Regions from separate parts of the Homo sapiens genome. Here all the other regions are linked to region 3. Evidence: fine-mapped expression QTL. A gene starts in region 3. Each other region holds a variant in brackets. All regions are shown on one strand. Distances are between the middles of the regions.

Region 1 (11,110 bases), 200 kb after region 3:
TCTGTAGTGTATCAGTTTCTCATGCAAATTTATTGCAAATACCTTCTACTCTATGGCTTATCTTTTTCCTATCTTCTAGTGTCAATGAAGAGGTTTTAAATTTTAATAAATCATTTATTAAACTTTATGCTTCTTATGATTTAAGAAATCTTTCTGTAAGCTGCAGGCATGGAGATTTTTCTTTGTGGTTTTGCACCATTGATTGTAATTAACTTGGAGCTTGTTAATAATGAGAGTTTTCTTTCATTTTTTTCCACATGTCTACCAAATTCCAATAACATTTACTGAACATCTTATTCTTTTACCACTGCTCTGCTGGGCCAGCTCTGTCATAAATCAAGTGTTCCTTTGTGGGTGGGCTTGTTTCTGGACTCCATTCCATCTTATGGTTCTCTCTCTGCTTCATCAATAGATAATCTTTTTGTGTTTTTTACTACAGCTTTATAGTAAGTCTTGATGTCAAGTAGAATAGGTCTTCTTTATATTTCTATATACATTTTAGAATCAACTTGTCAAGTCACGCACACACACATATGCACACCCTGGTTGAGAATTTGAATGACACTAAATCTTTAGGTAAAATTTAGGGAGACTTGGCATCTTTATACTTGTGTTCTAATCTATTTATTTATGTCTTCTTTAATGTTTCTCTATTAAACATTATAATCTTATATGTGTTTCACTGGGTTTATTTCTGTAGATGGTATTTTTTGATACTAGAATAAATATCTTTTTCCTCATTGTTTTTGCTGTTATATAGAAATATAATTAATTTTTGTATATTGATTTTGAATCCAGCAACCTTGCTAAACTCTGATTCTAATGCTTTTGTAATATCTCTTATTAATTCTAAAATTATATCTGTATATTCTTTGGAATTTTCTGCATATACAAATCATATATCATGTGGATATTGATAGAATTTTCCTCCTTTTTAATCATCTAACTTCCATCAGGATTTCATCTTTGTCCTAAGGTGACTTATTTAAAAATGTATTTGTTAATTTCTATACATAGGGATTTTCTATTTATCTTTTTTTTACAGATTTTTAGAATAATTTAATTTTAATCAGAATACATTCTCTGAATGACTTCAATCATTTTAAATTTGTTGAGACTTGTTTTATGACCCAGCATATTAATATCTTGTAAATGTTTCATGTGAGCTTGCAACAAATATGTATTTTGCAGTTGATGGGTACAAATGTTTCATACAGGTTTATTAAACCATGTTTGTTAATTGTTTTGTTCAAATTTCTGCATCCTTGCTGATTTTTCTTTGCCTGATAGATTTTTGCAGTCATTGAAAAAGGTAAGTTAAAATCTACTCTGTGAATTTTTCTTCTTGTGCTACTGTCATACACATTTAGACTTTTATATATTAGTGGTCAATGAAATCTTTTATTACCATGCACTGACCTTTATCTCTAGTAATGCTTTTTGCCTTGAAACAAAAATACAAAGTATACCACAATGCTTTTTATCACTTAGAATTTTTATTTTTTCTTTATTGGTAAAACTCTTGATTTATTTCAACATAGATATATATATTTACTAATATATCAGTATTGTGTACATATATTAAAAGGGAAGTATATGTGTAATAAATTGGCTAATGTCTTCCTAAAACTACTTCACTTTAGAGTTCAATTTTTCTGAATCTCCTTTAAACTTAGATTTATTGGCACTCATATTTTTCCATAAAATAATGTCTTCTGGGCCATCAAGCATGACAGCAATGCATATTTCTGTAGAGTGTGCACAATTATTGTCTTCATTTTGTAAGTTTTGATGCTGGCACTTTCTTGATCTCTCCAAAATTTCTCAGTAGAAGGTTTCAGACAAGAACCAGGACTCATATTTTTTCTACATATGGTTAAATGGTTTGTTGACTGAAACATTAAAGAGTTGTAATAGTCTAGTCATACCATCATGATAAACAACCACATCACTAATAGATGAGATTCGTATTTAACTTTTCAGGCAGATGTCCATGGAATCATTGAGAACCAGAATATATGGTAGATTCTCAGATGTCTATTCCAGAAGACTTCTAATCAGTCGTCTGTCACCACAGTCATTATCCATCCACTATCGTGTTTCACTCTTAATAATACCTTTGAAAAAGTTCTTTAAAATTTTTTTTTGTTATACTTTAAGTTCTGGGATACATGTGCAGGTTTGTTACATAGGTATACATGTGCCATGATGGTTTGCTGCACTCATCAACCTGTCATCAAATTAGGTATTTCTCCTAATGCTATCCCTTCCCTAGCCCCCCATCCCCTGACAGGCCCTGGTGTGTGATGTTCCCCTACCTGTGTCCATATATTCTCATTGTTCAACTCCCACTTATGAGTGAGAACATGCTGTGTTTGGTTTTCTGTTCTTGTGTTAGTTTGCTGAGAACGATGGCTTCCAGCTTCATCCATGTCCCTGCAAAGGACATGAACTCATCCTTTTTTATGGCTGCATAGTATTCCATGGTGTATATGTGCCAAATTTTCTTTATCGAGTCTATCATTGATGAGCATCTGGGTTGGTTCCAAGTCTTTGCTATTGTGAACAGTGCCAAAATAAACATATGTGTGCATGTGTCTTTATAGTAGAATGATTTATAATCCTTTGGGTATATACCCAGTAATGGGATTGCTGCGTCAAGTGGTATTTCTGGTTCTAGATCCTTGAGGAATTGTCACACTGTCTTCCACAACGGTTGAACTAATTTACACTCCCACCAACAGTGTAAAAGTGTTCCTATTTCTCCACATCCTCTCCAGCATCTGTTGTTTCCTGACTTTTTAATGATTGTCATGCTAACTGGCGTGAGATGGTATCTTACTGTGGTTTTGATTTGCATCTCTCTGATGACCAGTGACGATGAGCATTTTTTTCACATTTGTTGGCTGCATAAATGTCTTCTTTTGGGGAAGTGTCTGTTCATATCCTTTGCCCACATAAAGTTCTTATTCTTAGACATTGTTTTACAGTTACACAAATTAAATATGGTGGTGACTTCAGCAATCAGCAGTTAGACATAAGATCATAGTGACATGCTGCTTTTGATACCCCAAATTCATAATCCTGGACTCCTTGAAGTTCCATTTGTATTGGCAGTATGATTTTAAGTCTTGCCAAGGAAAACCACTCCCTCATCCCTAGCATTACCTCTTTAATTAAACACATATTATCATTTTTCCTCACTTGCATCATGCTGGAAGTTAAGTGTACCCTGCTCAGTCAGCAGGATGTTTCTGATAAATTGATGTTGTACATCTTAATGATAATACTGTGCAATGCATGAATCATTCACTCCAGGGTCTTATTGTGCTGAGATTTCTTTCATCTATTATGAGGAATTTGGCAATTTCTCTTGCCACTGTTGCTTTGTGTATGACAGGCAATCTTTTTTGCATTAATTTCAGTAACAAAATATAATACAACTTTATCTACTTGTGAGCATCTTCCTTTCTTACATCCTATAAAGGATTTTATTGTTGCTTTCCAAGAAAACTTGGAATTTAGGGTCATCCATCTAGTGACAAATGGTTGCTTCACAAATATCAAATTTGTACCCTGCTGATTTGTTCCCGTCCCTTTCTGCATACATAATAACTATTTGTTTGAATCCTAAATTATAGTGTTATATTTTGATGACATTTTAAACAGCAATTAAGATCAACATATGTTGCACCAACAGTGCACATAATTCGATTGAAGTGACAACAACATGATAGCTTTGACCCAGTTTCACATCACAGGCAATGACAACGATGTTGTGATTGCCACATGGCAACAGCAATTAAGAGGTGTTATTGATTATAATATGCATTCTATTTCAGAGATTTAAAGATGTTAAAATGTGGAGAACAGTGTCATAGAATCCATGAACATGCTATTTATTCTTTTTGCTACTTTATGCTAAATTTCTTGGCTTTCCTTCAAATTCCCCTTCCACAGCCTTTCTATCTAATTTCCAAATTTGACTTGTCATTAAAGAGTAACTAGTTCATCTGCTCTTTTTCTTCCAAATGGTCCAAGAAGTTCCAGAGTCAGAAGTAATAGATGTGAGAAGCCCTGTTCAAAATAATCTTCTTCATACAGGCGACATGGAGCCTGAAACTTCACAATTAGGAATTCACTCCTCTGAGTTCTTTTCCCAGTGGCCCTCTTAAAAATGTAAACACATTTGGAGGGTTAATACCACATTTAACAAATTTCTTCTGTATTGTGAAGGATTTTTCAGATGATGTTCTCTGACTGTAGTGACCTGGCAACTGCAGGATGAGAATGATAGGTCCCAGGTCAAATAAAGGGAGAATTTTCTAGAGGGCCTGAAACAGGAGGCATTAGTGACCAAAGGGGATATAGGATTCTGAGGAAACACATAACCAACAACTGTCCTAGCTTGGGTTTCTTCAGAAACTGACCTTGAGACAAGGATTCCAGTGCAAGTCGTTTAAGTGGGAGTTGGTCCCACAAAACACTGTTATGGGAGTGGGCAAGTGAGACGAGGAAGAGAAGGGAGCCAGTAAGGGTGTGCTGTTAGCCATTTGCTAAGATGGGCTGAGAACCCTTGAAGTTGGTATGGAATATGTGACAGAGTTATCTACTCAAGGACTTTGGGAACTGGAGTATTTTCACATCAGCTCTTGTCATCTATCATTAGCAATGAAAAAAGATGGGATACTGGCCGTTGGATTTCTACTTGACTAAACTAAAATGATAAGGCCAAGAAGATGTGAACAGGACAGCCCCACCTCTGCTGTACCAGCTCTTCTCCTAACCCCAATTTGAGAACTTTTTGACTTCTCATTTTTTTAACTACCTACAACCATACTTCTCTCAAATGTAGATATTTATTCTTTGTGGTATCTCTGGGATATGAAGCATTTGTCTCCATTTACAGAGTAAAATATTTTCATTCACATTTTTGAATTAGAAATGTGCAACCTACTGCGTACTTCTGGTTGCCAACTAGCTCTCTCTCCCTTTGCATCACAAATACTGCTGTTGAGTCATTTTTATCTTTATTCCTCGCCAATGTCAAACACACTGGCCTGTGTGGGTATCAAACTGACTTACTCATAAATTAAGTAAATAAGCCCAAATGCCTTTCAAGTTCGCATGATTTTAGTAATCTTTGATGAAAAAAAGACAGTTTTAAAATTATTGCTAAAATAAAACAGCAAT[G/A]TCTTCAGAATTTAGACATTTGGCCTAAATTAGTCCGTCTTTGATAGGTGTTTTAAGATATAGAACTTTGTGGCTGGGTGTGGTGGCTCACGCCTGTAATTCCAGCACTTTGGGAGGCTGAGACAAGCAGATCATGAGGTCAGGAGTTCGAGACCAGCCTGACCAACAAGGTGAAACCCCGTCTGTACTAAAAATACAAAAATTAGCTGGGCATGGTGGTGCGTGACTGTAATCCCAGCTACTTAGGAGGCTGAGGCAAGAGACTCGCTTGAACCCAGGAGGCAGAGGTTGCAGTGAGCCGAGATCATGCCATTGCACTCCAGCCTGGGTGACGGAGCAAGACTCCGTCTAAAAAAAAAAAAAATAGAACTTTTTTTCTGACACTTGCTTAACCTGTCTATAAGCTTATGTTCTTAGAGTTGAGCCATTAGGATATGATGAAGCCTAGTTCTAGGGATGGTTCTTTGATCTGGGCTCTGCACCTGGTACATAATTAAAATTACTTACGTCCTAAGTTTTTCACTAAAAATGAGTTATTAAGAATTGACATTACAATTAATACATGTAATTAAAACTACTAAATACAAAGTACATAAAAAAAGGTAAAGTGTATTTTTCATAAAGTTACAAGAAGGCATGGGGAGGTGGTTTTATTAAAGGAAAATTAATTTTCTCTAGTTAAAAAGTGTTTAAGGATTGTTTTAAGTTAAAATAAGGAGAAAACTGAAGGTTTAAACAAGTTGTGAAAGGTTTGAGAAAAATTAATCTTATAAAAAAATTCTATATGTGAGCAAGTTAGCTAAATTTTAAATGGACTTTTTTAGTTTTTCTATAAATTAAACATTAAAATAAAAAGCATACTGACGTAGGGCCAGAATCTAGGCCTTTGTGTTAGAATCACAGGATTTTCTTGGAGCACTGATCTACTCTTTAATAAAAAATTATAAAAATATAAAAAGTTTATGAAAATCTTACCTTATGGCTCAACTGATTAAGGTTTATTTATTCATAAGGTTTTATTAAAAATAGCTTTAGCATTAATAATATACTATACAAAGGTAAAAAAAGTAGTTTTTCTCTCGAACAAGATTTTTGTGTAATATTAGAAAATAGTAAAATATTTTTATCTTTTGAGTAAACTACCAAAAAAAAAAAATGGGAGAGAGAAAGATTTTGTTGGCCTCATGCTATCTTTATTAGATTTTATTGTTTGGGAAAGTAAGTCTCCTCTCTGCCAAAGAGTAAATGTTTCTGCTCTTTTGAAATCTTTGAATTATCATTTTGGCTAAATAAATTACTTATTTTATAGTGACTTGTGGTCCTATTTGTGATATGAAGTATTTAAAACCTTTCATATTTGACAATTCAAAATCAAATTCTAAATTCAGTCTTTTGTCCTAAAACTAACTTTTCAGAAGTCCAAGAGAGACATATTGATCTTACTTGATATGTTAAAGTCATATAGGAAACACTCCCAAATATAAAATGGTGTTTAACTTTCTTTGGGTTAAATATTTATATTTATATTATATTTATATTAATGTGTTATTAGTATGTATTCCAAATTGTATGAGATTCTTATGATTCTGATATGTCTATGTTATCAGTAGTAATTATAATTATTATGTAAAATTGTTGAAAGCCACAGAAATAACCAAATTTCCTTGGCAATTGTGTCTTTAACTGTGGATGTTCTAAAACTTTTGTCATCCACAAACAATTGTTTTATGTTGATCCTTTCAAAATTGGTTCAAAGTCATCTCAGGATTCTGACAGGTGCTCTTGAATGCAGGTTTCTGATAACTTTGGAGACAGTGCCAATGGAATAGAGAGAAAACTTCCAGGACTCTCAGGGAGAGCTGATGTGTTCATGAGAATTGCTGACCCAATATCAAGTAGAACAGAAGTTAATTGCATGGACTGAACTAATAGAAAATTTAAATAATTTTATTACTTTTTTTGTTTCAAACTTTACTGATTCTTTTTTTGTTTTTCAAAGTCAAGAAAACCTTTTTTTCATTTGAACTATTTACAGCTTTTAACAACTGAGTAAAATATATTCTTGTGAGCAAAATTTGAAACATATTTCTTTCTCCAGAATTTGGAAACTATTTGTGAGTATTCTTAATTTATGGCAATAGTTATTTTCATAAGTTCAATAATAATAATCTCTTTTCTTCTGTAAGAGGACACACTGAAGACACTGGCTATTTTACCAAGTCTTTGGTTGCAACGATATTTTCAGATATGAACAGATGGCTTTGAGGAATTGGGATTGATGTACAGAGCCCATAAAAGCCCTTTGGAAAAACTGGCCTTCTATCTTGTCCTTCACAGGGTTCTTGACCTGTGATAAGTAAAGATTGTCACTTTCTGACAGGCCCGGGAACCTCATAGGACCTCAAGAAGAGAGGAATTCACCCAATTCATACAACTATCTGCAAGCATAGATAAATCCTTGGCTGGGCTTGAGGCTTTTAAAAGGTCTAATTTGAGAGTCCTTATTTTTAAATAAAAGTTCCAGCAAAGCTAATTTTAAAAAGAGCCTGTATAGCAAATAATTACTTTCAATGCATTTTATACAAATAATCAGACCAAGTATAATTAAACTAAAACTTACTGTGCAAATAAATTACTCCTGCTATGATGTTGTCTTTAGTAAAATTGGGGGATTGGAAAGAGAAAAATTATGTTCCAAAAGAAACTGTAGTATACTTGTTATCAGATTCTAGCCTTGTCTATTCTTTTTCAGTTTTTAGTATTTGCTACAATTTAGATTGAGTTCTGAATTTTTCTCCTGGCTATATATCTCCAAACTAATATTTTCAATTTTTTTCTCCCATGTTTCTGACTTGAAATTGCTAGAAATTAGAACTGCTTTTCTTAAAGCTTCTCAAACTGAAGCTAGGCAATTTAAACCTCAGGAGAAAATAACAGCAACTGTTATTTTAACAACCTTTGTATCTGCCTGCTCATGTTTGGACTTCTCAGAAAGTTCACTTGAACATCTGGTTTGAACTACAATCCAGAAGAATCTGGATTGCAGTGGCAATCTGAAGTGCCTCAGAGGCTCTAGAAAACTAGTATAGAGACTGATTGCTCTTGACATTCACCTTTGTTTTTCTTATGTTTCTATAGAAATGCCTCTTATTAGAGATCTGATTGTCTACCTAATATAGAAGCCTAACCCATCTGCAATGTCGCCTCCTGGAATGTGACACAACTGTTTAACTGAATTGATCTATTCTCAGGACTAATATAGTGATGAAAGAAGATATGAAACAATATATTTAAATTTGCTCTTTTCTATTTATCCCAATTTTTCTTTCACTCCATTGTCTGTCTCCATTTAACAACCTCTAAACCTAAATCTCTCCAAAGCTATCAGCTTGCCTTTTAATGCGTGAAACCTGTTTTAAGTTTCAAAGTGGGGACTAAAGGAAATTAAAATATTTTACTCCCAAATATATTTCTTTGATGTGTTTTAAAATGGTTGCAGCTTGGCCAGCTAACAGAAGTGGCCTTGCAAAGCTCTTTTGTGGGAAAAATTTGCATCTGTAGAGAATCTCCATTAATGCAACCACGCTCCCTCCCCTTTCCATCCCACTACCCCATCCAGGACAGAGTAAGAGTCTGAGGCCTTTAAAAATCTGAAATGAAACATTTACCATCTACTCTGAGGGAGGCTTCATTTACATAACAAGGCCACCTTTGCTGGTCTTGTTATGACCAGCTTCTTATTATTTCCTTCTCTTTATTCTGAGTATGTAATTTTTCTTAATGGCTTCTACCTAATCTTTCCTCACCAGAATCAAAAGGTTATGTCTACGGTGAAAAAAACAAACCCACTAAATTGAAGAAGAGCTGAACTAGTTGTCTTAAAGCTGATTAAAATAGAATGGCTAGTCTAATAGGTTTTAAAAAGCAATTGACTTTCATGATAAAAACTCTGAGTATACTAGGAATAGTGAAATTTCTCAACTTGATAAAAAAAAAATGTACCAAAAAATCTACAGGTAATATACTTAATGGTCAGAAACTAGGTGCTTTTCTGCTAAGACAAAGAACAAGGCAAGGTAGGCTGAACTCACCACTCCTATTCAGCATCATATTGCAAGTAGTAGCTTAATACAATAAGGTAAGAAAAGGAAATAAATTCTATACAAATAGGGAAGGATGTAATAAAATTTTCTTTGTTCACAGGTGAATTGTCCACATGTGTCCATAGACACAGTGACTGTCTATATAGAAAATCCCAAAGAACAACAACAAAAAAAGCCTCCTGGAACTAATAAGCCATTAGAGTAAGGTTATAGACTGTAACATTAAGACACAAAAGTCAATTGCTTTCCTATTGAACAGGAACAAATCATTGGAATTTGAAATTGAAAGCACAATGCTACTCATATTAGCACAAAAAATGAAATACTTAGGTATAAATCTAACAATGTGTGGATAAGATATGTAAGGAAAATGATAAGACTAATGAAAGAAATCAAAGAAGAACTAAATAAATGAAAAGATATTTCATATTCACTTTAGGCAGAAATAAGCAGAATAAAGACTGTATTGTCAAGATGTCAGTTATTCCCCACTTATCTATAGATTCAATGGAATTATCTACAGATTCCAATCAAAATACTAGCAAGTTATTTTCTGGATAATGACTAATTTTAAAGTTTATATGGAGAGGCTAAAGAGCCAGATAGCAATGACATTGAAAGAGAAAACCAAAGTTGAAGTGACTCCACTCAACTTTGGGACTTAGTATAAACCTATAGTAATCAAGACAGTGTGGTACAGGTAAAAGAATGGACAGATAGATCAATGGAACAGAATAGACAGTTCTGAAATGGATCCACGTAAATGTACTTAACTGACTTTTGACAAAAGGGCAAATGCGACACAACAGAACAAAGGTGGTCTTTTCAACAAGTGGTGCTGGAATAGCTGGATATTCAGCTGGATATGCAAAAAGTGAATCTAGACACTGACCTTTCACCTCCCACAAAAAATAAGTGAAATTAACTCAAAGTGAACCACAGACTTAAATGTAAAATGCAAAACTATAAACGTCTTAGAAGATAACAGAAAATAATCTAGATGACCTTGGATTTAGTGATGACTTTTTAGATACAACACTAAAGGCAAAATTCATGAAACGACAGATTGATTAGTGGAAAAATTTCTGCTCTGTGAAAGACACTGTTAAGAAATGAAAATGAAAGTCACAGGCTAGGAGAGAATATTGGCAAAAAACATATCTGATAATGAATTATTATCTAAAATATTTTTAAAAAGCAAGAAAACAAACTCAATTTAAAAATGGGCCAAATACCATAATAGATGTCTCACCAAAGAAGATATATAGATGAAAAATAGGCATATGAAAAGATGCTCCACATCATACGTGGTCAGGGAAATGCATACTAAAATAACAATGAGATACTGCAATGCATCTATCAGAACAATCAAAATCCAGCACACTGATCACACCAAATGTTGATGCGGATGTGGAGCAACAGAAACTTTCATTTGTTGCTCGTGGGAGTGAAAAATAATACAGCCATTTTCAAAAACAGTTTGGCAATTTGTTATAAAACTAAACATACTCTTGTAATATGATTCAGCAATTGCACCCCTTGGTATTTATCTAAAGGAGATGAAAACTCATTTCTACATGAAAACCTACACATGGATGTTTATAGCAGCTTCATTTATAATTGCTGAAATTTGAAGCAACCAAGATATCCTCAAATAGGTGAATAGATACACTGCAGTCCATCTAGACGATAGAATATTATTCAGCACCAATAAGAAATGAGCTATCAAGTCAGGAAAAGATATGGATGAAATTTACATGCATATTACCAAGTAAAAGCAGCCAACGTGAAAAGGCTACATATTGTGTGATTCC
Region 2 (11,110 bases), 100 kb after region 3:
TTACTTTGGCCTTTTCTAGATTGAAAAGAACTACTTTCCCACTCTGATCAACTTTTGCTCATTTTATTTATACTTTTTCAAAGGGTATCAGTTTTGGGAAAATTTATATACCTTAAATACAAATTTGGTTTTTGGCTTTTTTTTTTTTTTTAAAGTAGTAAAATGCTGATAGGCAGTAACACGGGGATCTCAACAAGTTCAGCTGTGATGGCGATAGCAATTACAATGGAAAAGTAAAATACAAGCATCTTCAACAGGCCCCAGCCAGGAGCAAGGCTGGCTTGAGGTTTGTAAACATGTCACTCTTCTGTGTTCACTTACACTTCAGACACAGAAATCAACTCAGTCTTGATATATCCAGTTCCTTTAGGGCCATCAAGTTCCATTGGCTCTGGTGCTAGAAATAAACACATTGTGTACGCTTTCCATCAACCGAAATTCCATCAGAATACAACATCAACTTTTCGGGGGGATTAAAGTTCTACTGTGTTTCTAGACAGCTTAGCCTCCTAAAACTTTAAGGAGCTATAACCTCCCTGCCTGAGTCACCTAAAATTCTAGTGGGAATGCAGAAACAACGAGAAGAAGGATCTGAATTCAGTCTGGAAATAAGCTAGTGTTCAGCAGGACACTAGCTAGGAGCTTTCTCTTTACACAACTTGAAATCTTACAAGAAGTCTGAGCCCAAAATATGCAAAGTTCTATCCAGTTTATTGGCATTAGCCTGGCTAATGAATATTCACAGCTGTCAAGGTAAGCTGGGGACATCTTCATTCCAAAGTAATTGTCCTAATATTGAGATTTCTGATTCTGAAAAACAGCTTTGTTGGTGTGTTCCAAACAAAACAGGTCTAATTCGAACCTTCTCAAATGCAATTCATTGACAACTGAGAAGCAAGAGACCTGTGTTCTCAGATGAGGCCTCCTCTTAATAATTATCTAATAAAAATAGGATCTAGTAAGTAATTGGGCCACCCTAAATGAACCACTTCACTTCTCCCAGGCCTCAGTTTCCTCAACTTTAACGTGAGCAAGATGCCTTCTGTTGGTTTACCACAGTTCCTTATTTAAACCCTTTTCATGTGGAAACAGTGATAGTAACAAATACACAAGACCAGCAATGGACTTTTCCAACATTCCTAAAATAGGAAATTGTCCATTCATTTCTTACTAGCTGTATCAGGCCAAATAATGCATTATGTTTCACCTGCACTGAGTTTATGCCATCTTTTGAAAGCCTACTCTTACCAATTCGAAAGCAAAACACTGCATGGGTGGAGTTTCAGAATAATCACCCCCTCATCAGGAAAGACTGTGCCACGCTGTTACCACCTGCTTGCCCCACTTACCTTCCTTTGGCCTGGAGTAATACTTTCCAAAGGCATGGTCTTTGTCAATATTTGGATACAGATACTTCAGGGGATTCTCAGGAATATTCTCAGCAGCCATGACTTTGTAATTGCGAATGATGTCAGGGAAAGTAACAGCAGAAAGTTCTTTCTTCGTGTAGGGTTCAACCGCATGGAAGTCAGGTTCTAAAAAGGAGAAAAGCTAAGTAAATCCCATAGAACATCCCAAAATGAAAGAGGACAGAGAAATAAAACACTGCAGAGTTGATGGATTTGAGTGAACCTCATAAGAACTAATCACAATCTAAGCATTATAACATATACAGTAGACTGCTTTATTTCTAAATAAATTATAATACTGTCTCAGGGAAAATAAAGGGAGGTATTATTCTCAATAACATTCTATTTGCCATTATTTGCTTAGATTTATAAATCTGGGCAAAAAAGATTTATTAAAAACCTTTAAAAGCCTGCATCTTCAATGATGTGCTGCCCATAGGCACATAAATAACTTACTACTAAGTGGATCATCTTGGCTTAAGCCACAGATTTAAATTACTAGAGATAAACTCACTTTGTTTTTCTTTTCATATTGAAAAATCTAATTTTTTATTAAAATAAATTATGATATATAGAAAACAACATTTCAAATTAAAAATGATCCTATTTGCTACATTTCCCTGTAACCCTTAACGTAATAAACCATGGTTTAATTTACTCCCGTTCTTATTCCCAGACTGAATTCAGATCCTTCTTCCTAGCTGATACAGAATCTCCCTTTGGGTGTCGACCTTCCAGAGGCCACGGTTCAGGTGTTCTGGGGAGCCTGCTGTGGAACATGAGACTATGCTGCCATCCTAACCCTTCCTGGCTGGTAGTGTCCTGCTTGACCTTTCCTGGTTGCCAAGGGTTTTCTTCATCTCTGCTTGGTCTACTATATCTGTCTCTCAGCTGGTTCAGGAAGGGAACAGGATAAGAGGAAAAGGGCAGGTTCTAATGACTACTGCCCACGCCAGACTCTCATCTCAGCCTCCCTGCTTTTTCCTCAGAAGAAAAATAGAACAAGAAAAGTATTCCAGAAAAACAAATAGAACAAGAAGAGTATTCCTGAAAAATAAACAGAACAAGAAAGAATACCGTTCCAGAAAAAAAAAATAGAAGAGTATTCCAGAAAAACAAACAGAACAAGAAGAGTATGGCAGAAAAACAAATAGAATAAGAGTATTCCAGAAAAACAGGAGAAGAGGAATATTTCAGAAAAATAAATAGAACAAGAAGAGTATTCCATTTTGTGTCTACCCACTGAAAGTATAAAAATTACTAAAACAAATCAGTTTTTCCTCCTGCCCTTCAAACAGACCAAACTCTAAACAACAGTGAAAAGTAATCAGTTGGTCTTTATGATTTTTTCATTTACGCTGTTGAGCTTCACCCTCAGAAACCTGCTTCATAACACCAAGGTTTCTGGAGTCTTTTAGCCATGGACTCATTTGATTAAATAGAAACCCCATATATGATAAAGATAAATTTGCAGCTGCTCTGTTTGAAGGCAGGGTAGAGGCTGCCACTCGTCCCAACAGGTCCTGCATCAACTCCCTGGCTGATGATGTGTATGAAGTCTTCTCCCGAAGCCTGTCTCATCTGCACACTCTACTCTGGGATGACCCTAAGAGAATGTGGATGCTTACTCCTGTGGGAAATGTGATTCCTTCCAAGAACGGGTTGCAGATTACATTGACTCACATCCTTGATCTGCAGATAACAAACCTGATGCAAAGGAAAGAATTGGCATTGTCTTTTCAAAACCATCATTTCCACAATATGTTCCAGAGAGTGAACCACAACCACAAACATTTGTGGTGGTTTATTAAATCCTATCGGGGGCTCATTTGGGGTAAGTATAAGATCTGCAATTTCATGTCCCAAACGCACTATCTGTATGAGCTGACTGGCGGCGATGAAGAGGGACTTCACACACATGGAATGGTGGGACTATGTGCTCAAACTCCCACTCACCGCCTCCGTTCTGGGACCGCTCCACCCATGTGAATGTGATGGCCCCTTCCCGGGAGCTCTCACTGAACCGCAGCAGGAAGGTCCCCGGCTGCTGGTCCTTCAACAGGGCACGCTCTCGCTCCTTGCTGATGAAGCCCATGATGCACCTGGATATCGAAGAGATGGACGGATGGGCTTTTAGTTCAATCATGATTTCCATTTTCATGCTAACTTACAAACCAAGAAAATGGCTGGAATGTGAGAAAAAAAACCTACGGTAAAAAACGTAGACTATTTTAAAATCTGTTCAGTTGACACTTAAGGAAGCATTTCACTTATACATGTATATACTAAGGTTTTAAAAAAAGCGATATGAACATGGTGTCAGTAGGATGCTACAGATGCTCAATAACACGTGTGGGATTAATGAGCCTTTTATTGTTCCTTTATTATTTTAAAGGCCATAACAATGTCTGAATGTATACATCTTTTTTACTGGAGAGGAAGACCTAGGCAATATATTTTCATATTTTAGCCCTTCTGATCAAGTTAAAGCTTCTGTTGAAATATCAGCCGATCCTGGCAATAAGTCAAGATAGAAATGATTTACCCAGTTAAAAGGGTTTTTCTTCCTTCCTAGGGGCCACATAGTAGGTGCTCAAAAAATTTTTGTTGAGTGAATGAATGCATGAATGGCACTCAAGAGTTGTTTTTTTTTTTTAATTTAGCTTTGCCAATACATATACTTGTACTAAGAAAGTGTAAGGTTAATGTTATGAGGTTCTACTCTTCTGAAGCCCTGAAGGGGCAGCCTATAAATGCGCACTCCTGTGAGATTCACACACGCCTAGTCAAATACTGAAGCTGGACTCAGGCCTTGTCTCAACCTCGCAGCACTAAAAATATGTTTCAAAATACATCTATCGGTGGCCCTTACCCATCATTCCAGAGAGGGAGCAGGTGTTTTTTAATGAGTTCTAGGATGCTTTCAATCCAAAGCCAGAAGGGAAAATTTTTATCATTTATATTTTCCTGAAAGTATACAAATGCAGACATTATGAACAAAAATCTAAAACAATGACTTACCATGGCCCCTCCCACCATCATTTGCAAAGACTCCCCAGGTGCCAAGGATGGAACTGTCCCATTCAGCACAGCAATGGGATCCCTCCCCTGGCAGGGAATATCAAGTTCCCTCCCCGCTCTTATCAGCATTCAGACCAGGAGCTCTCCAGAGCTCTCCACTTCCCTGGGCCGGGCTCTGCTTCCCTTTCCAAACAGTAGCAAGCTAGCCTGGGGGTGACCTCCAGCGTGACTCACGGAAACACAAGCTGCCCCACACTAGCAAAATCCAGCAGTGCAAGCTGGTCCGCACTGTCTGGTGACTCCAGCAGAATCTAAATGTTCCCCGCAGTGGGCCCCTCTGCTCGAGCAGGCCGTTAAACTCGTCTGGCTGGTCAGGCTGCGCCACCCAGCCCACAACATACATTTCACACAGAAATGGCTAAAACACTGCTGGGCAGGGGTCCAGCGTGAGTGAACAGAAGCCTCATTTCAGATATGAAAGAATGTTATCACTCAGGCAGGTGCTTCCTGTCAGACTCCTGCTCGGAGACCAACCTCCTGCACTGAAGAAAAGTAAACAACTTGCCCGAGGGGCTCCTTGGCCAGAGAAGAACACGCCAAAATAAGCAAACAGTTAAGTAACTATCACAGCAAGAAACATGAGAACCTCAACCAAGAGCAAAAAGGACTTAGAGAGCATAAAACCCAGACAGTCCTCACCTTACAAAACCTCGTCCACGGAATGAGACCATCGGGGCTGGCGTTAGGACCTAAACAAATAAAAACCAGATTTTTCAGCAAACAGAAACTGATTCTAAAGCTTTGGTTGGACGGATGGCTCTTGTATTTGCTCTCAAGGAAAAGAGCCAAACACCCAACAAAGATTGTATGTACACAGTTGACATTTTCGGATACCTTAATGCCAAATTAACTGAGCAATTATAATACGTGCTGTAAGAGGGCGGAATTTAAATGGTCTAAAATATGTATATGTTGGTTTGAGTTTAATGGCAGAAAGGAATGGATGGCAGATTCCTGGGCACCACGATATGAGAGTTTTTAGGGAAAGCGGAAACATCACAAAGCCTTACCATCTGCTCTCTCCCTCCCCAGCCCCCCTTTTCCCTCCCTCCTCTAAAGAGAGGACAGTCCTTTTAATGCCTCTTCATGTTACACTTCCTTCCAAGACCATCAGCTGACTTTGCCTTTTGCACTAAATCAAAGGTGTTCTGCTGGGCCTCCTAGAGAAGCCTCCCTATCCAGTGCCTCTTCCCACTGCCTTCCTCTGCTGCTCAGCAGAGCCCCCTCTCCCAAGGATCCTACAGAATTTTTTTCAAAGTTCAACCTAGGTGCCCAAGATCACCCCTAGATCTTCAATGTAACTGATACTTGACTTTACAAGTTTATTTTAGACATTATTTATGCATTTCCCTCAGCTTTCCTCCAAATAGGACATGGGCTCAGGCAGTCTGATGCAAATCAAAAACCAAGTGAGAGAAACGAGAGGAAGAAGCCCGGGGTTATTAGCTACACAAATTAAAGCAGCCTGGGCGAGAAGAGGCGGTAAGCCCATTATCGGTCTTCAAAGAGAACTACAAATGAGCCATTACAGCTAGAAAAGATATCCTTCTTAACTCTCACCAAATAAAGAAATGGAATAAGGGGATTTTGTACTTGTATTAAACAGCACAAGACCACCACTGTGACAG[C/T]TGCATATCCAAGAGAAGAAGGCACTGTTGAAAGTCACTGAGTTAGGAAGAGCCTACTGCTGTTTGGAGTAAATGCAGTGCTGCTCTACAGAAAGCAAATCTGGATACAAGTTGTCCACGGATTTTTAAAGAAATAGTTCAGATAGCCTCACTCACTGAAAGATCTGACCTTGAGACTAGTGGATCTTTGATTTGTTTAGTATGAAGGACTAATAAATGCACTGACATTAACCACTGAAAGGGAATTATCTACCACTGTCTAGACTCTGTCCAATCAGGCAAAACTGCAGATCAAAAGAGGCATCCTCTTGTGGGGACGGCATCCTCTGCTACCTGGGCCCCACCTGAGGCAAGGGCCCTGGGTTTATGCTGCAGTGGGCAAGCCCCAGGACTTTATTTCTCATCATGTCAGGGACTTCCTTTTTTCTCCCCAAGGTTAATGGTTAATAGGCCTTCATCTTTCTCATCCAGGAACTTATTTCAGCCACAAATAATATATTTTACATAATTCATAAAACTTTCCCTTGGGAATTCATCTCAGAAATCTTAATATGAGACAATGAGGAACGGATTCATTTAAATGTTATCAGGTCTATATTTCTTTCTAAGGTGACATATGATTCTCACTTAGCTATAATAAACTATAGCTTGAAAAGCTGACAGATTTTAGTACTTTTTTACCTTTAACAAAATAGCAGAGGGGAAAAGAGCAATTAGAGAGATATTTTTATGAATTTCAATTTTTATAAACATAACAAGTTAATATGCATATACCAAGAAGCTTCTCTCCCAACATGTTCAGCTGGTCCACATTGAGACCTCTTTTGGTGACAGAAGAAAACTGCCAACTCAGCACTTCTGAAAGCTGAGCCCATCGTGCACATGGTGGAGTCAGGAAGAAGGACAGATTCTAGAGAGAAAACACCCAAAATCTAAGGGTTACTACAGAGACACCAGTCACAAGTGTGGCACTAAAACATATGTCCATCCCAAAGTTCAATTCTAGTTTATATGACACACAGGTGCTTTCACAGTAGGGGAAGAGAAATACAGTCAATTTTCATTATTTACAGATGCACATTTGTGAACTTGTTTACTCACTAAAATTTACTTGTAACTCCAAAATCTAAATACATGGCATCTTTGGGGTCATTTGAAGACACACCCGTGCACACACAGCAGCACACAGCAGCAAAGAATTCGAGTCTCTTAACACGCTTCCAACTGAAGCCAAACAAAATGACACTCGCTTCCTGTTTCACCTCTCATAAGAAAAACGTGTCCTTTTTGAAGCCTATTTAGCGCCATGTTTTTTGCATTTTGTGACTGCTGTTGGTGATCCCTGTTTAAAATGGTGCCCGAGCATAGTACCACAGTGTGGTCTACTGTTCCTAAGCATGGGAAGGCTGGGATGTGCCTTATGGAGAAAATACATGTGTGAGGCAAGCTTCACTCAGGCATGAGTTACAGTGATCCTAGCTATAGGTGTAATGTTAATGCCTCAACAAGTGTATTAGATAAGGTGTCTTTAAACAGAAACACACATAAACAATGTTATGCATTGATGGGTTGACAAAAATGTTGTGACCAGAGGCTTGAAGGAACCTAGCCTCGTAGTTCCCTTAGGAGCAACAATTCATTATTTGCTAGTTAAGTGTTCCTGGTGACTTTAAAAAACATAAGTACTTTGAATAATTATAAATGACTGTAATTAATTAACAGTGAGTATCCACACTCTAAGAATGGAGCATGCTTGTTTAGTAGATGTATACATTTTAAAAATAATAACAATAAAGTGGTATGGAATCACTGACTGCCCTAGCTTACCCACATGGGAGAAAAAACGTAATTCTCATTTCAAATACATATCCATGCTTCATATTCCCAGATTTACTCAAAAGCCTTAGAAATACCACAGGAGCTTTGTCACTTCTCCCTTAACAACTGGCCATTGGGGCTATTTCAGAGATGCAGCAGTGAGAGCGTGGGGTCTCTGCTTAACCCTGGGACCAAAGCAAATGTGTTTTCCATACCCTGGGTTCCGCCACCAGCATGTTGTACCAAAGGATGGAGGCCCAACCGCTCGGGAGCTGGCTGACGTTGGAGATCACCACAACGGGCAGAGAGGTCGTCTAAAGGATGACAAAGACCTTGAAATCATCTGAATCACAGAAATGTCACCTTCAGATAACTGCTTAGCCTCAACTAAAAGCAGGGGATTATTTGTAAATTTGTACATATTTAATACTTGAAAATGAGAAGTGTTAAGTTCTGTTCTTCTGTCCAGTTTAACTTGTCTTTGATGTATCTTTCAGTTAAGAAATAAGTCCCTAAAAATAATAATAGCTACAATAATTAATTAAGGGATATGCAATATGAGAAGATGAAAACTGTCACAATGAAAACATAAAATGTGGGGGGAGGGCAGAGCAAAATAAATAAGTCCCAATGCTTAATGTAAAAAAAAAAAATTAACATCAGCGATCTCAACTGGAACTTTTAAGTTATTGAATTTGAAGGTTAATTCAATTGTCTAGCTTTCTGGACCATAAATTAAGGTTAAGATAGTATTAGCTGAAAAAGATCATTTTAAAACAATTAGGTAAATACCTCCAGAACAAACACTGAGAAATAAAAATACATGTAACAATTAAAAGTAAAAATAATGAAGTTTTCCAACTCGGGACCATAAAAGTCTTACCTCGAGGTCAATTACCAAACCAGGCTGGCACAATTGGGTTTCAAAACTAAGGGAGTGAAGCTCTTCAGTAACGATGAGAGGACCCTTGGAAGAGAAAAGGAAAGAAGAAAAGAATATAATTATTCACAGATCCTAAAACTTTCAAAAGCCCAATTAACATTGCAACAGGCCACAGAGATCCTGGGCCCAATCAGTGGCAAGTCTGAAGACTCAATATTCAATCTCTCCCAGATTTAATGATTCTTAGTATCTCAGTGTGCTCTGAAAGATAAGTGTCTGAAGTTACGGCAAGGGTTATAGATTCAGAGCAATGATTGTCAATGGGGAAAGAGCAACTAATGGCTTTGTGACCTAAGGCTTCTCGACCCTCAGCTCTGTCTGCCTGCCCAGTGTGGCTGCACATCTCAATGCAGATGGGTGGGGAGAAGGTGAGAGGACTGGGAGTAAGTGCATACTTGTGATTGTCTACTGCCTACCGGAAGGGCTGACTCACATCAACTTGGCAGGTCACAAGTTGTCTTGGTTTCGGTAGAAATGGATAGATTTCAAAGTGCCTTCATAAGCATTACCTCATGTGAGCCTCACAACTTAGAACTAGAGAGGTGCAACAGCTAGACCCAGGGAGGTCAAAACATAGTTCAGGCGCACACCAGGGCTAGAAGGCATCTTTGCACTGCCTGGGCCTGTGTTTGTCCCGCTGCTCCATGTGACCTCCACTGGTCCTGGTGTGGAAGGACTGCACACTGTGTGTGCATAAATGACGAAAGTGTTCTCAACCAAAACAACTCCAGATATTTCATCCTTTGTCCATAGTTCATTTCTGAATGCATCACAAACCCAACTCCTTAAGGATCACGCTGTAGGAAGGAAACTGATGCAAAGGCAATGCTTTTGGTAGGGGATGCAATGGCCGAAAAGCCCTCTTGGCACACAGCAAGGCAGTCATCAAAGTGGCCTCTCGTTCCAACTCTGACAGTAACTCTGTGCACCCTTAGCTAAATCCTGCAAACTTCTGTGAGTCAATTTCTTCACCCGTAAGATGCGAAGAATACAAAAGCCCACAACAGCTACTCCACTGAGTTGTCCATGAGTGTCTAATGAATTTGTGTGCAAAATCGTTTGACAATAGTAAAGCACAAATGTGGTGTTTTTACTGTTGTCACAGATATACCAAATACCCAGCTCCTTTGCTGCTCTTCCCTGATGGGTCTGAACTCCTCTGTGAGGTGTCCCCAGCCACCAACTGACCTGTCCTTGCTAGACAGACCTGCCTGATTTGGGCCCATTCACAACATAAAGGGACTCTCACCTCATTCGTTCTGGTGCCAGCATTTTTCTGTTCTTTCAATTGCTATAAAACAAATAATCATCTTAGTAAACACCATGGTAATGGTCAAAGTTGCTATCTTCATTTACAAATGAGAACAAAGTTAGGACTAGAAAGAATGACAGACGTGACTTTATCTTTAGAATGCAGAACATGGGACAAATTGGCCCTCGTTCAGGGTCCATGAGCAGAAGCACGTTTCCTCAGTGGCCTCATGGTGCGGACACCAGTCTGGAGGGATCTCTTGGAATCACAACCCGCTCCTCTCCTGTGTTCAAACTTTCCCTGAATGTTTCCCCATGCACCTTCGTTAACTGTTTCATGCCCTGAGGCTCGGGACAGCTTCTCCCTCCCCTTTCCCTCAGCAGAGTCCTCCAGGCTGGGCCCAGTGACTCCAGGTCCACCTGCCCTCAAGTGGACGTCAATCTCTGAGCTGTCAATCCCTGAGCTGACGAGGGAGCAGGCTGGGGCCCTGAGGGCGGCTCTGAATACCCTCAGGCACCTGAGTTGGGCTAAGCTTTCGAGTTAGGTAGAGCTTCCTAGCTACGAGGCTTGCTGGATCACAAAGTGGTCTCTAGTGAAAAAGGATGCCTTTAACCTCCTGCAGGTTCTGGGCCCAGGGAAAGCTTCGGACTCAGCACCCACAGAGCCTCACAGCAACTGGCAGCCCCCATGTTCACAGAGGAGGAAAGATGGTGCACCCACACAGAGCATCCTGCTGGGTCTCCACTGCCTGGGGAATGAGCCCTACTGCCCTGGAGAAAAGGTGGTAGAGTCAGGCTGGCGTGGAGGCAGGGGCTGTGGGCAGGGCCACCAGGAAGGGGAACACGGGGGCTGAGGAGTGAACCCTGGTGTACAGGACCACACTTGGATCACAGTCAGGACACGGGAGCCATAACCTTTGAGAAAACTGCAAGCGTAGGTGAGTGACCGTGGGGATCATGCAGGCAGCAAGTGCAAATCA
Region 3 (11,110 bases):
TATGATTTTACCATTGGATGAGCATAAATAGATAAAAGCCCTGGCTCGTTTTTCTTTTTCAGGGCTTGTAAAATGTGACAAATGTTAGCTGCTGAACCACCATTAGATTTCACAGCATAAAACCAACCACAGCATAATTGTATAGGGCTCATACTTCAAATCACTGCTAATTTTCTCCACTTAACATGTCCAAATGCATATGACATACTAAACTATCAATTAAATGTCTCCTACCTGAGCTTTGGTTTTAATTGTACCTGGAAAAGAATGCCTATTGACAGGCAGTCCCACTTAGTGGTACTCTTTCAACTGCTCTGTAGGTTGACTGACTATCTTTTAGAGTTCGCCAATGTTCTTCTTCATGATACAGATTTGTATCCTGGCTACCACGTCTTCTTCATTCAAATTGGACGATATATCAGTCAGCTTAAGCTAAGTCATTCTATGGTAATAACCCTCAAGTTTAAATGACTTAAAATAAGGCTTATTTCTCTTGATGTTATTTGTCAGCCAAAGCCATTGTCAGCTTTGTTCCATAATTCTGGGACCCAGGTAAAGAAGCATCCCCTCATGGACTGGACTAGAACCAATGAACTGTGGTGGGGTGTGGGGGGAAAGAAGCGTCCCCTCTCTGGGACATGCCATTCTTGTTTAAAAGGGAAAAGAGAGATGACAGAACCAAGTGAGTTTATGCTCGGCAGTGGCATACCACTTCCTGTCACATATCATTGAACAAATCAAGGCCAAGACTGCCATCCAAGGTGAGGAGGTAAAGTCTGCCCAGTGGGAGGGACAAAAATATTTGGGAATAGTAGTATAATCTACCACAGAGGTTGTTTTCATTCTCAAGCAGGTATCCTTTTGACTGACTTTTGGACTATATACAAAATCAGTTTTTTTTAGGTTTTGCTAATATACAAGAAAGACTTTCTTAACTCTGGGCTGGGGTTTAGCCTGATTTATTTTTAATATGAATCCACAGAAAAATAAGCATTAAAATCACTTTAAAAAATTAATATTTGGAGGCCCCATAAATATAATGGTGGTGTAAATATAAACAATATTACCTTACAAACTCCACTAATTGAAATCTTTATCATATTACTCTAAGTGGAGAAAAATAACTGATTCCCACCCAACCCCCACTCCGGCCATCAGGAAACTCTCAAAAAGAACTTCATATAGTTAGTATTTTAAGGCAGATCATTCAGATATGCTGCTCAAATTTGATGAATATCTCTTGTCATTTTATATGATGTCACAATGAACAGAGGTATACTTTCATTTACATAGATGGCAAATGATATATTTTTAGATTTAATTGCTATATGTTAAGGTATTTGTATATGACATGTATATTCAAGGACTGCTTTCTTAGCGATTCTTCCTTCTCTGGAATTTTTTTTTTTTTTTAGCTATTTGTGAATAGCTGTTACTTTGGGCACTGAGCCCAGCTTTTCTTAATCTGACTGTCTTTATCTTTTTCTATTTTAAGATACTTTGAAAATTATTGGTTTATTTTCTAAAAATGAAGTAAGTAAATTATCTCTAGGTTCCCCTTAAATGGTATTTTATTATTAGATGGTTTAAAACAATTGTTTGGCTTTTCAACAATAAGTGTAAAAACTGATCACATTGCATGTCAAAATTTATTCACCTATGGTTTGATAATAACAGCTATAACACTTACAGAGTGCTACTGTCATTATTCTGGGTGCTTTATATGTGTTGTTTATTTATTCCACACAACAACCCTATAAGTACCAATATTATCCGCCCCCCTTTGTTTTTTTGAGATGGAGTCTTGCTCTCTCATAGCCCAGGCTGGAGTGCAATGGCTAGATCTCGGCTCACTGCAACCTCTGCCTCCCAGGTTCAAGCAATTCTCCTGCCTCAGCCTCCCGAGTAGCTGGGATTACAGGCATGCACCACCATGCCTGGCTAATTTTTTGAATTTCTAGTAGAGATGGGGTTTCACCATGTTGGCCAGGCTGGTCTTGAACTCCTGACCTCAGGTGATCCACCTGCTTCGGCCTCCCAAAGTGCTGGGATTACAGGCGTGAGCCACCTTGCCTGGCCATATTATCCCCTTTTTATAGATGAGGGATTTACCATACTTACTTTGGTACACATCTATATTCAGTATTGGAAAAATAAGCCATGTTTGGCAGGGCTTATCAGTGAGGCTAGGAATTTGGCCAGTTAAAGCAGGAAACCAACAGAAGAAAGGGAAGTAGTAGCAGAAGCTTGTTTAGAGGCTTCCTGAACCTTACTCTATTCTCCAAACAGAAGAATTTCAAAAAAAGGCTTAGGCAATTCTTTTAAGCTGTTAGTCAAAGGAAAATTACTTTCTTTTTAGTTCTAGGTCAACAAATAATCTACTAGTTTTTGTGAAGGCGCAATCTGGAATTTCTATATATATATATTATTTTATCTTATTTTATTTTATTTTTTGAGATGTAGTATCGCTCTGTTGCCAGGCTGGAGTGCAGTGGTGCGATCTTGGCTCACTGTAACCTCGGCCTCCCAGGTTTGAGTGATTCTCCTGCCTCAGCCTCCCAAGTAGCTGGGATTACAGGTGTGTGCCACCACGCCCAGCTAATCGTTGTATTTTTAGTAGAGATGGGGTTTAACCGTGTTAGCCAGGATGGTCTCAATCTCCTGACCTTGTGATCTGCTCGCCTCAGCCTCCCAAAGTGCTGGGATTACAGGTGTGAGTCCACCGCGCCCGGCCTATATATGGATTTTATTATGATCTTGAAACATTAGCCTTTTGTAATCTTCGACAGAACAAAGAAGCTCAGGAACATAGAAGCACAGGAACCTTTCTTCAAGTTAGAACAGACACAAAGTGCACAAATTCCAATTATTCCTTTTGATGGCTGATTACCTGATGATGGCTATGGGACAGCAACTCTTTGTAGTGTAGCTGCACTTAGGAGCAAAAAGGAAGTCGAAGAGTAGATCTGACAACCCAACCATAGTTAATGTGGAGAGCATTTTTCTATTTGTAGATATTTTGGTGGACTACTTATTGTATGTATACAAATGTTTTTATACTTTTTACATGATGATTACATGAGTTTATGTAATGATATAATTCAATTTAACATAACTGAAACTTCAAAGTTGTGTAATGGTTACAAAGTTGTAGATAAAAATATCTTTAAAGATTAAAAAATTATATAAGATGAAGAAAAGAATCAAATGAAAGTATTGAGTCACATTTTTATTCTATTTATAATAGTTTCTTTGCTGTCTATAACCTTTTCATTAGCCTTCTCAAACAAGGGGTTAAATTTCAGTGGACTCAATTCTTCCAAATTTTGGGAGTAATATCTATCCATTCTCACCAAAAGCAGAAAGTCTGGAAACTACCAGAAAATAAAACTCTAGAAACTAGAAACTCTAGAAAATAATCTGTTACTAGGTTAGCTTTCTTATTTGTTAAGTGAACTATAAAGCCTTTAAACCTTTAAATATCTAAAACAATTTTCATAAGAAACTCAGAGAAATTAAGGGAGAAACTGAGAGGAAAACAGTAACTGGATTGTCAGTTGCTTTGTGTTGTTGAGAAAAAAGAGGCAGTTAAAATTGATAACTAATTGCAGCTAATATATTGGACAATATTAAAGTCTGCAAGTCATTAACAAGTCAGGGTTAGGCAGGGGTAATATTTGTTACCTTTCCTCTGAAACTTGATGTCTCTATTCCTGAATATATCATTACTTTGATTCATCAACATTTTTGGACAAGTAACATTAGTAATAAAAGCTATCTAAGTACTTTCCCATTGTCCTGCTTTTTTTTTTTTAAATAAAAAAGGTGACTATGTTTTACACATGATAGTTTTTTCCATGTTCTTCTGGTTAAAGAGCAGATAGAAAAAAAAAACTTAAAACACGGCAAGGCTGTAACATGCCAAAGGTCACATAACCTGTAGGTACAGCCAGATTTCCTAATTATTAATCTATTGAAATATTTTACAGTTCACTAGATTACTAAATCCGGTTATCAATTAATGATGCACCTGACATACACCCTTCTAGTTTCATAAAAATCACCTCATTAGGCCGGGCGTGGTGGCTCACGCCTGTAATCCCAGCAATTTGGGAGGCCCAGGGGGTGCAGATCCCTCGAAACCAGCCTGGGCAACCTGGCGAAACCCCGTCTCTACCAAAAATACAAAAAAAAAAAAAAAAAAAAGCAGGTGCTGGCTGAGGTGGGAGGATCACCGGGGCCCCTGAGTTCAAGGCTGCAGTAAGCCGTGATCGCGCCACTGCACTTCAGCCTGGGCGACAGAGTGAGACCCTTTCTCAAAACGAACACACACAACAACACAGTAACAACACACCAACCCCCAAAACATCTTATTAAACTCTGTGGATCTACTCCATTTAAACCTAATTGTTTCAGGAAATAGTCTAAAAACATTTTTTTGTCCTGGAATGTAATGTGTATGTAGCCTCAGGGAATAACTCAGTTTATCAGGTTCTTGGCTGTTTTTCCACAGGTCCAAAAGGATAAATGGATAAAGTGATGCTGAAATAACTTAGAGAACCCGTATTCCAACGCTTCTATTTTAAAACAGTGAAGCAGTTTTTAAAATAGAAAAGTATCTACAGTTTTGCTTTCAAGCAAATAGCGTTAACGGAATCATTGCTATTCAAAACTATTTTTGAAGTATCGGTGTACATTTAAAAAAAATAATTTTTAAAAAAGAAAGCTGTCGTATTCTGGATTCCGCAACCCCCCCACCCCGCCTCGCCACTCGTCGCCCTCCCTCCACCTCCACCCTCCCATGGCTTAAGTCGCATAGCTGAAAGGATTTTGCTCATTTTTTCCAAAACACTTCACGTCTGGGTAGTAGCCAATCATGGAAAGTTTCAAGCAAATGTTACATTTGGGAGAGGGATGAAGCTTGTCCGGGGCTGCTCTCGGAGGAGTCGCCAGACGCCCTGACCTGGGGGCCAGATGCGAGCTGGGATCGGCTGAGTTCCGACAGCTCGGCCAGACTCAGCCCTGCCAAACCTGCTGACCTCACTGCCCTCGGCTGCGGGGGATCTCGCCCATGAGTCTCCCCAACAGCTCGAATTCCCAGAGTGGAGGAGCCCACTGCTTCATAAATGCGAGAACCCAGAGCCCCTAGTACCCAACTAGGCTAGCCTCGGAGTTGGCACGGCGTGCAGAAAGTGGCTACTGAGCAGCCGGGCCTGGCTCACCCGCTTCACACGTCAGTTTGACTCCTCTCCCCGCCCCCCACCAATCCCCCGCCCTACTCTCCGCGCACCCAGAGCCGAGAGAAATTTGACTGCCCTAATCGCCAATCAAAAGAGAGGTCGAGGATTTGAGCCAATCGCAGCGGGCGAAAGGGGCGGGCCGTCGGCGAGCGCTGAAGGTCTCTAGCCCTCCCCTGCGCTTTAGCCTCAGTGCGGAGCCTTAGGCGGAGCGAAGAGAACCGGTCGCGGCAATCCTAGCGCGCAGCAGCAGCAGCAGCAGCAGCAGCAGCAGCAGCAGCAGCAGCAGCACCCGCATCCGCTGCGGGAGTCCGAGCCGGAACCACACCCAAGTAGCTGCCCTTTCCTCTTCTGTCATCTCACCGCCCCACCACAGACCGCGTTCCCCGAGGAAACCGGCCGCCCACGCCCGGAGCATCCTCCCCTGTTGAGCGGGCGCTGACGGACCCGGCGGCATGATGCGGCTGCGAGGCTCGGGGATGCTGCGGGACCTGCTCCTGCGGTCGCCCGCCGGCGTGAGCGCGACTCTGCGGCGGGCACAGCCCTTGGTCACCCTGTGCCGGCGTCCCCGAGGCGGGGGACGGCCGGCCGCGGGCCCGGCTGCCGCCGCGCGACTCCACCCGTGGTGGGGCGGGGGCGGCTGGCCGGCGGAGCCCCTCGCGCGGGGCCTGTCCAGCTCTCCTTCGGAGATCTTGCAGGAGCTGGGCAAGGGGAGCACGCATCCGCAGCCCGGGGTGTCGCCACCCGCTGCCCCGGCGGCGCCCGGCCCCAAGGACGGCCCCGGGGAGACGGACGCGTTTGGCAACAGCGAGGGCAAAGAGCTGGTGGCCTCAGGTGAAAAGTGAGTGTCTCCGCGAGGCGCAGGAGGCCTCGTTCCTTTCGGGGCCCGGGCTCAGGCTGTGTGGGGCCCTGCGGTGGGGCGGGATAGGAGCCGAGGGTCTAGAAAAGAGAAAGAAAGAGGTGCCGGGCGGCCTGCGCCGTCTGCGCCATGTGATTAGGCCCGGCCCCGCCCGCGCCTTCCCCGCCCGCAACCCTCCGCCAGGCACCCACTTCCCTTCTCCGCCCCCGGCGGGGGTCGCCCTGGTGGGGCCGCGGTGGGGCCTGATGGGCTCGCCTGGCGTCCCCAGCGCCAGAGAGGCCGCTCCCCTGCCCGCGCTGCGTGCTCAGCTCCCTGGCTTGCGGCTGCAGCGCCTGGCCGCCCGCCCCAGCCATTCGTGGGCGATGCTGCACGAACATCTCCACCGAGTGACATTTAGGAGTTGGGCGTTCAGCAGAGCCTTTACCTTCCTGACTTGTCGCTTTTCCTGGCTCGTTTCCGCTCTGCCTGCCCTCCCTTGGTTTCTGCCATCATCCGGTTGGAAGCCAGATGTGACAGAGAGCTCTTTATATTTCGGGAGTGGCTACCTCAGGCACGTGTAGAGCCATCTGGGGCACCGGAAACAATGTTTCAGAAGTGAGATTAGGAGGAATCCGGTCATGTGGCCGAGAAGATGGGGCACGCAGTATAGACCACCTGTTTGCATAAGGGACCAGCTTTGGCTTGTCAGGTCTTCCGTGAGATGGGGAGATTTTTAGAAATAAAAGTTAAATAGCCAAGATGAAATGTGACGTAATACACTAACTCAGTGAAAAATCTGAGTTGAGTAGGTTTTGTGACTTCATTGTGATAGGATGTTGACTCATCCTGTATGTGTACGGCACAGTAGTTTAGTCTTAAAGCAAAACTGGTTTTTCTTAAACAATATGCAAAGCAGTCTCCTATATATTTTTGTCTTGTGTAATACAAATGGACCACTTTGTTTTCCCAAAATGGGTAAAAATTTACGGATCTGCTTTCATTATACCTTACTCTTTTTCTGGCTTTGTACGCTGACACTCTAACCTGTTTTGCTTCCCTTTTATTTCTGCTGCTATTTCCAGCTCTAGAGTTCCTTAAGTCAAACTGAAAGTGAGAACATTGTTATAATTTCAATCTCACGCCTGCTTGATGTTTTCCTGTAATTGAAGTTGGGACCTTCCAGAAACTTTTCTAAAGTTCTTCTCCCAGACTGAAAAAGATTATTTGAAAAAAATCACTTGATGATGGGCGAAATTTGTGGTATTTTGTGATGTTGGTTTTGTGCCACAAAATAGCGTCCTGACCATGGACAGGTTATTTAATATCTTGGGTTAGATGACTTAAATCCTTTCAAGTTCTAAAAAGCTATACTTCTGTTAAATTTGTACTTCTCTCATGTTTTAGGGACTAGAATGATAATTTAATCTCATCTGGGACTCACTTTTACTTTAACATCATCCGGTTTACCAAGGAAGTAACGAGTTTACATGCAAGTGCCCAAGGTACAGAATTGCAAAATGCAGTCACAACCGTTTAAAAGTTCATCTTAAAGGCTACAAGATGGGAACTGCATTCTAGTAAAATTATGTCTTCAGGTCTGTGTCTCTGCAGTGGCTCTAGTGCCTCTCTTTTTTTTCCTCTTTTGTCAAACAGGAAATTGAGCTTCTTCTGTGATTCACTTGTCCAGAAGTTTCTGGTTTCATTGCCTTTTTAATAAAAAATCACCTTTTAGCAAGGGCCTCAAGGTTGTGAAGAAAGTTTTTTAATTTGGTTAAAGTTTCTATTTCCTTAATGATCTGGTTTCCAAATGTAGCTTTCCCTCTTTGGCTCCTTTCATTTTGCCTTTATGTGACAAACATTTCTCTTATCCTGGGAGGTAAGCTCCCAGTTGATCCTGTTATCCTTTCTAATGCTTAGCCTGCAAAGCATAGGTCATCCCTCAGTCAGCAGTCCACCTGGTATGCTAGCACTCACTCAGGACTGTGCCAGATTTTATGTAGTATTATTAAAAGAAATAACCATGAGAAAATTAAATTAACATTTTGTAAAAGGCTTAGAACAATATTTGGCGTGTGTTAAATGACACATAACTATTTATTAAATAAATGAGAAAACATTGCTTCTTCATTATTGTAAAGCCTGTTAAAGAGATTGGCCTTGGAATTTCAGGCTTGCACATGAAGGTTTTTAATTTTTTTAGTTTCCACAAAAATGTTTATCTTGAGAAATTGCTATACATCTGTCTTATATGAAACTATGTGAGTTGCACTGTTTACCTTTTGCTCTGCTGATAAATAAGTTCAGAGTAAATTTAATGCTTAACCACACCAATTTCATCAGTTCACATGGCTGGGATATCTGCGTTTCCTCCTTTCCTTGGTCCTGAGTTTATATTTTATTTACTTTATATTCTGGAAGGAGGCGTGATATAAGCAAGTTACTTTACCTTTTTTTCACAAACTCTTTGAACTAATGTCACTTTAGACTATGCTGTTTCCATCACGCAACTTTAGTGTGGTTTAGGATACGAACGTCTTAATATCACATAGAAAAATTTAATGATCTTTGCTCAGTTTTGTCTTTAGTGATCTTATTTAATTTTGTTATGGTTCATTCTGTTATCTTGAAAACCAACTTTGCTTGCCTCTCTTCGTTTTCAAAATTGTTCTCTCTTCTTTCCTAGTTCTTTTTGAATTTCCTCACTGGGTAAAAACCCTGAGGCTGAGGCCTTTGTCCCTTTCCCACTTGTCTGCCTTCTCAACAGCGTATCCCTTCTTTCAGCTTTGACTCTCATCTTTGTGTAGGTAATACTTCACCTCTTAATCCAAAGCTCTGTTCTTAAATTTGTCGCCACATATTCAATGACTTCAAATTTTAAGTCTGTACCCTGATATTCATTCTTTTCTCCAATTCAACCTATTTTGCGTACTGTTATGAGAGTAATTTTAGAGTTTTAATTTGAAAATAGCACTCTCTTCCAGAAAACCAGCAGGATCTGGAATGAGCATTATATTAAAGTCACAAACTATGTTATGGTTTATGCCAGCACTTGCCCATATGGACATTTTTATCATACTTTTCTCTGTTAAGCTGGTTATACTTATTTCCATAAAGTCCAGAAGTATGTATCCTATCTTAGTGAATGGTCCCTAGGAAGAGTCAGAGGGATAGAGGTAAGGGGCATTATTAAGTTTTTTTATTTGGACATTTATTTTTTAATGAGAAAGGAAAAGAGATACATAACAGAAATTGGGCTGGAAAAATACCAGCATATGTATGTTGTTAGAAAATAGATAATTCATACAGGATGCAATATTGAAAGTATTCTGTTAAAACAACAATGAGGTCACTTTCCCCTTCTCAGATTGGCAGATGTTAAATCAAGTAATTGGGAAAATAGGAACTCTAGCATTGCTAGTAGAAGTATAAATTATTAGTTCAGTTACTTTAGGCAGTTTGGTAGTTTCTGTTAAAAACTGCATAGCTGTGATGTGGTAGTTGGATGTTTGCATATCTACATGAAGTCGTGGCATTCAGAAATATTTGTAATTACACAAATAAGCATGCTTTAAAATATATTTATATTTAAAAGTAAAAATGCAAGCAAAAATGATTTCAGCTAGCTTTAGTTAGTATGGATTTATGTTTTGATAGTTCAGCTTTATGTTTTGATAGTTATGGACAATGAAGGGCAAAGAAAATCATCGAGGTGTATACTCTGAAAATTGAATTTTTTTTTTTTGAGATGGAGTCTCGCTCTGTCACACAGGCTGGAGTGCAGTGGTGTGATCTCGGTTCACTGCAACCTCTGCCTCCCGGGTTCAAGCCATTCTCCTGCCTCAGCCTCCCGAGTAGCTGGGATTACAGGCACCCGCCACCATGCGTGGCTAATTTTTGTTTTTAGTAGAGATGGGGTTTCACCATGTTGGCTGGGCTGGTCTTGAACTCCTGACCTCAGATGATCTGCCCGCTGTGGCCACCCAAAGTGCTGGGATTACAGGCGTGAGCCACCGCACCTGGTCTGAACATTGAATTTCAAAGTAAGATGAAATGCTTATGAATTTCAGCGAACATTGAATTGGGTAGATTGAACAATACTAGTAAGGAAGTTGAGTTAGTATTTGGCAGATATAAATATTAAGTTTTAGAACTGAATGACAAAACCTCTGTTAAAATGGGGGCACATGTTTTTATGATCCTTCAGTATTGCATTTGGTTTTAATTTTAAAAGCTAACATATTTACAATTCACTTAAGCTAAAATCAAGGTGGAAAGTATGTTTAATTTTTTCCTTTGGGCTTCTCAGGCAGCCCCTTAGTTATTTTTGATTTCTTCATTATTAAAAATTTTTTTCTAGGTGATGATTATCAGTGAGTTTTAGTTTTTTTTTTTAAATTTTATTTTTATTTATTTATTTATTTTTGAGGTGGAGTCTCACTCTGTCACCCAGGTTGGAGTGCAGTGGTGTGATCTCAGCTCAATGCAACCTCTGCCTCCTGGGTTCAAGTCGTTCTCCTGCCTCAGCCCCCCATGTAGCTGGGACTTACAGGCACGTGCCACCACACCTGGCTAATTTTTGTATTTTTAGTAAGATGGGAATTTACCATGTCAGCCAGGATGGTCTCGACCTCCTGACCTTGTGATACGCCTGCTTCGGCCTCCCAAATTGCTGGGATTACAGGCGTGAGCCACTGCACCCAGCCCAGTTTTGTTTTTTTAAAAGCAAGTGAAAAAGGTACCAATAACTATATGTCATAACATTTTTGTGACCTAATATTTATATTGAAATGTGCATCAGTCATTGATAACTTTGTCCATGATCTGTAATTAACAAACTCATGCTGTTAATTTATAGTTTTATTAATATTTGGATGAAATTCACTGAAAGAACAAGAATTAGATTCTGAGGGGTTTAGTCTCCTGGACTTTTAGCTGCATATTTCCAGACCTTACTCTTTTATAGAGAAGTCTACCTACCTCAAAGTCAGCTAATCCATGAAATGACTACCAAATAGAATTCAGCCTTTTTTATGAG

The links.
Region 1: its variant is fine-mapped to the expression of GLS in breast (GTEx, PIP above 0.99).
Region 2: its variant is fine-mapped to the expression of GLS in whole blood (TOPMed, PIP above 0.99).

What each region holds. Positions count from the first base shown.
Region 1 is chr2:191,078,718-191,089,827 of GRCh38, forward strand. The region is part of intron 3 of STAT4 (signal transducer and activator of transcription 4); the gene reads right to left. Among named protein-coding and RNA genes, the nearest start is that of STAT4-AS1, 63 kb to the left of the region's middle. The variant G/A (reference allele first, on the strand shown) is at 5,194.
Region 2 is chr2:190,975,491-190,986,600 of GRCh38, forward strand. It overlaps STAT1 (signal transducer and activator of transcription 1), which reads right to left. Exons shown (of 25, transcript NM_007315.4): 15 at 10,129-10,170; 16 at 8,820-8,903; 17 at 8,152-8,250; 18 at 6,893-7,028; 19 at 5,130-5,179; 20 at 4,282-4,376; 21 at 3,366-3,511; 22 at 1,350-1,535; 23 at 322-397. Among named protein-coding and RNA genes, the nearest start is that of STAT1, 33 kb to the right of the region's middle. The variant C/T (reference allele first, on the strand shown) is at 6,119.
Region 3 is chr2:190,875,393-190,886,502 of GRCh38, forward strand. GLS (glutaminase) reads left to right here and starts at 5,429. Exons shown (of 18, transcript NM_014905.5): 1 at 5,429-6,078. The coding sequence starts at 5,693. LOC124906110 (a long non-coding RNA gene) reads right to left here and starts at 6,596. Exons shown (of 2, transcript XR_007087791.1): 1 at 6,521-6,596; 2 at 944-6,176. RefSeq lists enhancers at 4,817-4,956, 6,353-7,552, 6,717-6,906 and silencers at 5,227-5,486, 5,827-5,886, 5,937-6,026, 6,087-6,396.